Homo sapiens: one gene and its partners. The protein of the gene in region 1 purifies or fractionates together with the protein of each later gene. This does not show direct contact. Each region holds a gene or a part of one and is shown in the gene's direction. Other genes may lie near its edges.

Region 1 (3,734 bases):
TGTGAGAAAGCAGTTCTTTACGTTTAAAAATTGACCTCGTCATTTCTCTACAGACTTACAAAATACTGTACTCTGTAGCTCCTTTGGTAAAACTCTAATCTAGGATGAATTAGGTAGATAAAGGAAGCTTTTGTCTTGCTCTTTAATAAGTTGCAGCTTGCTTTTATATGTATTCGACGAACCAGATGAAATGACCCTTTCCCTTCTGTAGCTCAAAAATGGTTGAGTATTGGCAATTTCATGTGTTTCCACCTAATAATTGTTGGCAGGTCCTCACCGCAATGTATTCAGAGTTGTGTTTTGTTACTGTTCGCAAATGTTGGGGGATCTTTCGAGATGGACTGTGTGAAAGAGGAAAGGGAAAGCATGTCAGCACATGGACTTCCCTGATCAAGGACATGCTTCTCTCTGGGGCAGAGCACTTCAGTACACGGCAAAACACTGAGGAAATTCCTCTCCTTTCAGTGTTTGGCTGATCATGTGGAATTGATGATAATCCTTTTTGATAGCTTATTCTTTTTAACCTGCATTAAAAGCGCCATTTAAAACACTGTAATTGAACAGCCCTAAAACACTGTTAGGAGTAAAAGAACAGTATTCCTGCAAGGCCTTTAGCAGCTCAAAAATACATTTTTTTAAATATCAGGGATAGTAAGAATTCCTAGTATTTTTTCCTTTCAATGTTAACCTGAAAAATGGTTGTCTTCCACAGCTTTCTTACGTAAGAAGATGTGGTAAGATGAGGAAAAAAAATATGAGAACCAGTTAACAGTTCATTATTCATCATTAAACCAATATGTAATATGTTCTTAAATTAACCACCTTTTTTTTTTTTTTTTTTTTTTTTGAGACAGAGTCTTACTCTGTCACCCAGGTTGGAGTGCAGTGGCACAATCTCGGCTCACTGCAACCTCTGCCTCCCGGATTCCAGTGATTCTCCTGCCTCAGCCTCCAGAGTAGCTGGGATTACACATGCCTGCTACCATGCCCGGCTAATTTTTGTATTTTTCATAGAGACAGGGTTTCAGCATGTTGCCCAGGCTGGTCTCGAACTCCTGACCTCAGGTGATCCACCCATCTTGGCCTTCCGAAGTGCTGGGATTACAGGCGTGAGCCACTACGCCCAGCCTAACCACTTCTATTATAATACAATCTTGTGTTTCTAATATTTTCAATGTCTAATTAATACTGTTATTTACTAGGAATGTATGGTTTCAACTTGCCCCATTTTCCCTAGGTTTGGGCATTCCATCTTCTTCTTTTTTTTTTTTTTTTTTTTGGCTTCTAAGCTTTCAAGTTATTATTTTTTCCTGATCTAGGGGTCACCAAATTATGGGCTACAGGTCAAATTTAGCCAGCTGCCTATTGTAAATAAAATTGTAAGGAGACGCAGCTACCCCAGTTATTTAAGTATTGTCTGCTCTTGTGCTACGTGGCAGAGCTGAGTTATCCCACCCAACAAGACTGTGTGGCCTGCAAAGCCTCAAATTTTACTCTCTGGCCCTTTCCAGAAAAAGTTCACCGGCCCTGTTTACCCAACGACATGCATTTCTGTTTTTTGTAGCCTTTGCCACTTTGCGTAAAGCACACTCCAGGTCTCTGCTGTTGGGAAGAGGTCTTCACCTAACTTCCGGCAGCCAGGTTTCTTGCTTCTCTTCCCTAAATTCCACACTCGCACTCTCTCTCAGTTCATTTACCCCCTGACTCAGACAGAGGGGATTGAGGTATTTCAGAAGAGGCTTTGTATTTGACAGCTCTTTCTCCCTCTCTCCTTTTTATTTTTATAGCTCCAAATGAGAAGATGAAGCAAGTGTTAAAGAAGACTATAGAAGAAGCCAAAGCAATAATATCTAAGGTTGGCTTTTTTAAATGATGCACTAAAACTTGTTGGGTTTTTTTTTTTTTTTTTGGAGATGGAATTTTGCTTTTGTTGCCCAGGCTGGAGTGCAATGGTGCGATCTCGGCTCACCACAACCTCCACCTCCTGGGTTCAAGCAATTCTCCTGCCTCAGCCTCCCGAGTAGCTGGGATTACAGGCATGCACCACCATGCCGAGCTAATTTTGTATTTTTAGTAGAGACGGGGTTTCTCCATGTTGGTCAGGCTGGTCTCGAACTCCTGACCTCAGGTGATCCGCCTGTCTTGGCCTCCCAAAGTGCTGGGATTACAGGCATGAGCCACCGCGCCCGGCCTAAAACTTGTCTTTTGAGATAAAACTCCAACTCTGGCTTCCAGAGTTGCCTCTCAGCCAGCCTTCTCTTTCAGCCTTCCGGAGGCAAAGGAAACAAGCGTATTTGGGGTAGGCTGTAGCTTTTCCTTTCATAATCCTGACGGTTGCCCAGAGGCCTCTCCGTTCCTCCAGGCAGACACAAATTTTTGTTGGCTTATGTAAATATAGGTTCACGTATAATACAAATATGTATAATACAAATGTTGATTTCATTTCTTTTACCTTTTTGAAGAACTTAACAAAGTTAAGTAGGGGAGATTTGAATATTGTGGCCATCGAGTAGCTCTCCAGACACTTGATTGACTTAATATGTATTTGATATAAATGGTTTTTTGTAATTGTCTTCAGCATTTTATACAAAGGCTAGTTTATAGAGGGAGGAGCGTAAATTTATACCATTGATATACAGATAATGTGTATCTGGAGGAAGAGAATTTAAGGCTATTGAAAGAAGTGGTATCTGTATCTGTTGCTTGTATTTGTGTGTTGGTGATATTAGTTGCTACCGCTCTCAACTGCAAGTCTCTTGACTGATCACCACTTTTTCTTCTGCTTCTCCTGGTTTGCTCAGCAGAACTGTTATTTTTAAACCAATATTTCTCAAACTTACCAAGCTTTTGACTAATCTTTGAAGAGCCTCAGCAAAGGCTGCCCTGAAGCTCTGTGCCTGTTAATATAGGAAAGGCTTTATGAAGCTCTACAGGAGAGGCCCTGGTTGAGCCCGTCGTTTGCGTGGTGATGGCATCTAGGCATGTGAGCACGTCTCAGGCCATGGCAAGAAAACAGTGGTCTGGCTGTTGTTCTGCACCCTTCTCCCCACACTTTGCTGTGGAACTCCTCTCTCGGTCGCCTCACTTCTCCCCTTTGCCTGTGTACTTCTGAAAGTACTTTTTATCCTTGGTCTTCTTCCTCTCTCAGTATCTTATCTACTCTGCCAAATGCAAATTCCACCCTCTGCAGATAACTCTGAAGCTTCCATCCTTTCCCCCTGACATCTTGCTTCACTTCCAACCTGAATTTCCAGCTGGTTGTGAGATGGTTCTATCTGAACACCCAGTCAGCACTTTGAAGTCCAGTTTTCTAGAAATGAGCTCTTTGCTTCCTCACTCCTCTCCCTCTCTGTTCTGTCCCTGAGAATCAGCACCTCCTATGAGCTTCTCTGTTTCCAGTAACAGAACCACAGTGTCTTGGTTTTATAGGGCAAATCCTCAGTGTCATCTTCAACACTTCTCCCTTCTGTCACCTCTAGGTTTGAAGTGGGGTTCTGTACCGTCTGCTCCCATGATGCCTCTTAAGTCCACCTCTTCCTTTCACTTCCACAGCTGTGGCTTTCTTTAAGGCTCTCCTGTAGCCTTTTGCATTCTGATGCCCACTGGGGGTCCTGCCAGTCAATTCAATTCCGTTCTGACACTAACTACTCAGAGACAGCACAGACCCCACAGGTCAAGGGCAGATCCTTCAATTCTGACACTAACTGCCTGGAGTTAGCATCAGACCTAAAAGT
Region 2 (3,576 bases), on another chromosome or scaffold:
AAGACTGCTAACCTGGTGGTGTCCTTTTGCATAAAATGACACTAATAAAACCCACCTAATAGAGTATCAAAATAATATATTTTGATGCTTGGAATACTGCAGAGCGAGTACTAACTATAAACAAACTGCTTCTTAAACCAATTTCATTTTTTTAAATGACCACACTCATTTGTCATTGTTTCTGTCAATCTTCTCGGGCTTACTCCTTCACTCCCTTCTCTGTATGATCATAGTACTCAATATATTATTTAGCTCAATTACAGAAGTTATCACACAGGGTTTCACAACTGATTTTGAATGTCTCCCCCAGTGTTCTAGGCTCATCCAGGATAATTCTTCCTTTCTCATCTCTTGTATCTGCACTACTCTTAATTTAGGTCTAGTATATTTTTTACAAAACGTTTTTGAATAAATGAGTAAGTCAGATCCTCAGACTATCTAGACCAGATCTAGCAGTACATGATATATTTTGGAAAGGCACTATTATATTCCCTAAGAACCTCTCTTTCACTTCCCTCTGATTTGAATAACTTTCAACTGCCAAGCTTTGAGAAAAGAATATAAAAGGGAGTGAAAATCTCCATTCCAAACTTGATAGGCGGTCTAAATTTTAAATGCATTATTTCTTCATTTTTTCTTGGATTTTGCAAGCTTTTGGGAAATTTGTTTCAATTTTAATTTTGCTTTAAATAAACCTAAAAAACTTTAGCTTGAAGATTAACAACTCTGCAATTTGAAGAATTTAGTTTGATGGCTACTCAGAAGATTCAGTAAGTAATTTCACAGTTCTTGATTATGAAACCTAAATATATGTTATGTTTTCTGTAGGCAAAATCCCAAACTTGTTACCTGAAGGTTCTGTAGATGGGGATACCAGGATGGTCCTGGTGAATGCTGTCTACTTCAAAGGAAAGTGGAAAACTCCATTTGAGAAGAAACTAAATGGGCTTTATCCTTTCCGTGTAAACTCGGTATGAGACAACAAAATACATCTTCCTAGCATATATTTTAGGGCTTTTGACAAGATATAGACAGAAAAATTAGAGACCGCTCATTATAGACTTGCTAGTTAGAAGTTATGCATGTTGGACAGTTGATTGACTCTTTAGAAACAGTATAGGTAAAGGGGAAGACTGTGGCTTTTTAATTATACATGCCCAGACTCCAACGTTGGCTCTACCACTTATTTCAAAGGGCTGTAAATATTGAGACATGGCACGGTTCCTGGCCCATAGTAAGAACTAAACAAGTGTTTTAGAATTATGGTTGTCATTACCATTGTTGTCCATCTTACTAAATAATGGGTATAAAGTTGAACAAGCTAATAACATCAGAGTACCCACTGTAAGGATGTACAAATAATTTATTTTGTTGATTTAAAAAAATCACATTTATCCTACACTAAAGTAGAACCAATCCTCCTTTATGTCTAATTGTAAATCTCTTGATATCTTATAATCGACTTCCATATTTTACCTTTTAATAATATTAGGCTCAGCGCACACCTGTACAGATGATGTACTTGCGTGAAAAGCTAAACATTGGATACATAGAAGACCTAAAGGCTCAGATTCTAGAACTCCCATATGCTGGAGATGTTAGCATGTTCTTGTTGCTTCCAGATGAAATTGCCGATGTGTCCACTGGCTTGGAGCTGGTAAGACATTCAGATATTTAAGTTTCTGGGGCTATACCTACCTTTCGTGAGATGAGATGAATATATACTCCTTACAAATGGTGTGGTAATTTCTCATGGAAATATATGAAACAGTTGATAGTAAATATGGCATGCCTCTACATTTCATTCAAAGCCTTAACTATGTCATACGTGTTACCTTCTTGTAAAAATCTGACCAATCTGTTAACTTTCTATATCACCCACAATATAGTAAAGTCACTGATTTTTAATATTAGACTTAAAGTTGTTTTCCTTCTTTCTAATACTTGCTGTATTTTCTTTTGTTTGTTTTGTTTTGTTTTGCTTTGCAGCTGGAAAGTGAAATAACCTATGACAAACTCAACAAGTGGACCAGCAAAGACAAAATGGCTGAAGATGAAGTTGAGGTATACATACCCCAGTTCAAATTAGAAGAGCATTATGAACTCAGATCCATTCTGAGAAGCATGGGCATGGAGGACGCCTTCAACAAGGGACGGGCCAATTTCTCAGGGATGTCGGAGAGGAATGACCTGTTTCTTTCTGAAGTGTTCCACCAAGCCATGGTGGATGTGAATGAGGAGGGCACTGAAGCAGCCGCTGGCACAGGAGGTGTTATGACAGGGAGAACTGGACATGGAGGCCCACAGTTTGTGGCAGATCATCCTTTTCTTTTTCTTATTATGCATAAGATAACCAACTGCATTTTATTTTTCGGCAGATTTTCCTCACCCTAAAACTAAGCGTGCTGCTTCTGCAAAAGATTTTTGTAGATGAGCTGTGTGCCTCAGAATTGCTATTTCAAATTGCCAAAAATTTAGAGATGTTTTCTACATATTTCTGCTCTTCTGAACAACTTCTGCTACCCACTAAATAAAAACACAGAAATAATTAGACAATTGTCTATTATAACATGACAACCCTATTAATCATTTGGTCTTCTAAAATGGGATCATGCCCATTTAGATTTTCCTTACTATCAGTTTATTTTTATAACATTAACTTTTACTTTGTTATTTATTATTTTATATAATGGTGAGTTTTTAAATTATTGCTCACTGCCTATTTAATGTAGCTAATAAAGTTATAGAAGCAGATGATCTGTTAATTTCCTATCTAATAAATGCCTTTAATTGTTCTCATAATGAAGAATAAGTAGGTATCCCTCCATGCCCTTCTGTAATAAATATCTGGAAAAAACATTAAACAATAGGCAAATATATGTTATGTGCATTTCTAGAAATACATAACACATATATATGTCTGTATCTTATATTCAATTGCAAGTATATAATAAATAAACCTGCTTCCAAACAACAATACATTTGTTGTCATTTCATTAGGTCTGCAGATCATAGACCTTGACTCCTAGGAGTTGAGCATTATGACTCACTTGTGAGAACTCAGAAAAAATAGACAGGATGAAGGAGCCAAGGACATAACAACCTTCATTCAAAAAGACCCAATGTTGAGGGTCAGTGGGATGGGGTTGTATGAAAAATGGGTTAGAGCTGCTTTCTCACAGCAGCAAAGACATAGCAATTCAGAATAGTCTAGGTTAGAGTCCTTTGGGGAAACCACTGTCTAAACATTAAGGACACCAGGATTAATGACCAAGTCCAGTGGTCCAGACACAGAAGAAGGCCTCAGTCATTGAGCTCAGAGTTGCAAGCAGTGAAGATGGGAGATGGGTTGGGTGCAAGAGCAGGAGGGGAAACATAAGATGGCTCTTTCTAAGTGTGTTTGTTTCTAATAGCAGTAATGCTTTTGAATGAGTCAGAGGCAGAGGAGAACATAATTGAAGACCTGAGAAATAAGGCAAATTGTAGGTTGGGGGCCTGAACAACAGAGTCTGGCTGCAGAAGTGCGGCTGGATCCTGGAAATGCAGCACACTCCCTTTGATGGCAGGCAGGGATGC
Region 3 (2,846 bases), on another chromosome or scaffold:
GCGAGGTAAGCCTGCCTAGCCTGGACTCCACTCCCTGCAGCACAGGGGCCTTCCCCCAGCCGGGGCCAGAGCCAGGGTCACAGTGGCTGTCAGAGCCGAGACTCCACCCACCAGTCGGGGCGGGCATGAATGCAGCTGTGCCCCTTACCAACCCCGTGATCCTGGGCAAACCACATAACCTCCCCCAGCCTCATGCTTCCAGTCTTTAAAACTGCTGCTATTTTGGAAATCAATTCAATGTAGCAAACGTTGATCAAGGCCTGGAACAGTTATCAGGCCTAGAACTGGTCTAGGTCTAACCCAGACCCTCTCTCAAAGGCCACATCCGTCTTTCTTTCTTTCTTTTCTTTCTTTCTTTCTCTTTCTTTCTCTCTTTCTCTCTCTCTTTCTTTCCTCTTTCTCTCTCTCTTTCTCTCTTTCTTTCTTTTTCTTTCTCTGTCTCTCTCTCTCTTTTTTTCTTTCTTTCTTTCTTTCTCTCTCTCTCTCTCTCTTCCTTCCTTCCTTCCTTTCTTTCTTTTATTTTGTTTTTTGAAGGAGTCTTGCACTGTCACCCAGGCTGGAGTACAGTGGTGCGATCTCAGCTCACTGCAACCTCCACCTCCCAGGTTCAAGCAATTCTCCTGCCTCAGCCTCCCGAGTAGCTGGGATTACAGGCGCCCGCCACCATGCCCGGCTAATTTTTTTGTATTTTTAGTAGAGACAGGGTTTCACCATGTTGGCCAGGCTGGTCTCAAACTCCTGACCTCAGGTCATCCACCCACCTTGGCCTCCCAAAGTGCTGGGATTACAGGCGTGAGCCACCGCGCCCAAGGCCACATGTTTCATATGAGTTGGCATAAGCATATGCTGCATAGGAAGAGATGACCAAGCAAAGGGGCCTGTGGCCCCTGGCAAAGGTGAGCACCTGACTGTCTGGGGCAAGAAGAGAGCACCATATAGGTAGAGTCACCGGATTTAGCAGATTTCATACAGGATACCCAATTAAATTTGAATTTTAGATAAATGATGAATAATATTTTTAGTGCCAGTATGTTCAGAATATTTCACGGGACACACTTACACTAAAACATATTCATTGTTTATCTTGAATTCAAATTTCAGTGGATGTCCTGTATTTCACCTGGCAACCCTACTTTGGGGTTAAAAAGGCATTGAAGGAGGGGAAAGATTTCAACAAGCAGAGATGGGTGCGGGGATGGGTGCAGCAGTGTGGCCAAGGCTGGGGGTTTTTGGATATCATGGAGTAGTGGGTGGTGGGGATTGGGTGCTTAGTGGAGATAAAGTGGGAGGTTCAAGCCAGTCTGGGAAGGATCCAGCTTGCCAAGCTGAGCCCGCTGCTCTGAATCAGATGGCACAGATTCCACTGTATTTTTCACGTTGACATAAGAAACATAGTTACTAGAATTTTCTCACTTTTGAGCTTTCCTGCCACAGACTTCCCACAAACATTTAACACCAGCTCTGAAGGTCTTGTTGAGTTTAATGGCTCATTTCTTTCTGTAGTTACGTTTGCTGATAGCTGTGATTGTAACACAGGATACTGTCCTGTTTTCTGCAAGTAAAATTGTGAGAATTTTGTAGGCTAGCAAGAAATGTGCCAGGATTTCACACATGCCCGTTAGTTTCCCAGTACTGATCACCTGTTTACAGACGTTGATGCCTTTGGAGTGGATTTGGGATGCAAGTCATCTCAAAGAGCTAATCCAGAATCCTTCTCCCTCTTAACCATCCACCAGGTGGATGAAAGGAGGTGCTGGAGGCTTCAGGGTGGGGGTACCACCACCTCACTTTCACCCAGCTACAGCCCAGTAGACCTTTCTGCCACGGCTATGGTTGATGCTTCCCTGTAACCCATGAGAAAGAGAAGCAAACCCCACTCCATCTCTCCCCCCACCGACTCCCGTAACTGATGCTCCCCCTGCACCATCTTTTCCTTCACACGGCATCTGCTTGTCGAATATTCTCCAGCATTAATGGCGAAAGAGCCAGGAACCCTGGAGTAAACCAAGTTACTGCTGTGCTGGATGGCTTGGGCCAAGTGGTCTTCCTCTCTGATCCTCTCTGGGCCTCCGGCCCACTGTGGTCGCCAAGGAGCTTGGCAGACCTTGACTTTGCCCTTGGCTTCCGTAGGCTGTGCACAAGGCTGAGCTGAAGATGGATGAGAGGGGTACGGAAGGGGCCGCTGGCACCGGAGCACAGACTCTGCCCATGGAGACACCACTCGTCGTCAAGATAGACAAACCCTATCTGCTGCTGATTTACAGCGAGAAAATACCTTCCGTGCTCTTCCTGGGAAAGATTGTTAACCCTATTGGAAAATAAAGGAGAATTCCTGCTTGCCACAGACCCCGAACATGGCTTGGGGTTGAACATGTTCCATCTTCCTGAGATGGAAGTCACAGGCACATTTCAGTTTAGTCTCTCCCTGTCACCACCTCCCTAGACAGCCCGAATGAGCAAAACTGCAAGTTCTAGAAGTCCTGTGCCCCATTTCCTCCCTGCCCATTCAAATGCTGGGATGCAATGCCCCACCCCCGCCCACTTGGTGGCATTCTCCTCTCCCCTCCAGCGGGCAGAGGGACTCTGTGATTTAGTAAACAAATGTTTCTCCCCCACAGCCCTGCCCCAGGTTGACTGGCTGTTGGTGGATAATTTGGGGAAGGTATGGGCCACAGCAAGTACCTGGGGTCTCGAGTGAGAGACTGGGGTTCAAATCCTGGAATGAGGTATCTTTGGGAAAGCCACAAACCCTCTCTGAGTCTGTCTTCTTATTTCTGAAGTGAAGGTCCCGCCCCTCCCTTTGGGGCTCCAAGGAAGCTAGTTCAGTGCTTTAACAAAGTCGGTCC

Evidence for each region.
Region 2: the proteins of CFAP298 (region 1) and SERPINB2 purify together in Homo sapiens (affinity purification with mass spectrometry; 3 studies listed by BioGRID and IntAct, with this or other methods). This does not show direct contact.
Region 3: the proteins of CFAP298 (region 1) and SERPINA12 purify together in Homo sapiens (affinity purification with mass spectrometry; 3 studies listed by BioGRID and IntAct, with this or other methods). This does not show direct contact.

What each region holds. Positions count from the first base shown.
Region 1 is NC_000021.9:32,605,770-32,609,503, reverse strand, and holds part of CFAP298 (cilia- and flagella-associated protein 298), read left to right. Parts: intron 1-1,787; coding exon 1,788-1,855; intron 1,856-3,734. Other genes in the region: CFAP298-TCP10L (uncharacterized protein LOC110091775), read left to right, coding at 1,788-1,855. UniProt on the Homo sapiens protein: Plays a role in motile cilium function, possibly by acting on outer dynein arm assembly. Seems to be important for initiation rather than maintenance of cilium motility.
Region 2 is NC_000018.10:63,900,912-63,904,487, forward strand, and holds the end of SERPINB2 (plasminogen activator inhibitor 2), read left to right. Parts: intron 1-828; coding exon 829-971; intron 972-1,492; coding exon 1,493-1,657; intron 1,658-1,989; coding exon 1,990-2,394; 3' UTR 2,395-2,977; downstream 2,978-3,576. UniProt on the Homo sapiens protein: Inhibits urokinase-type plasminogen activator. The monocyte derived PAI-2 is distinct from the endothelial cell-derived PAI-1.
Region 3 is NC_000014.9:94,486,779-94,489,624, reverse strand, and holds the end of SERPINA12 (serpin A12 precursor), read left to right. Parts: coding exon 1-5; intron 6-2,130; coding exon 2,131-2,322; 3' UTR 2,323-2,346; downstream 2,347-2,846. UniProt on the Homo sapiens protein: Adipokine that modulates insulin action by specifically inhibiting its target protease KLK7 in white adipose tissues.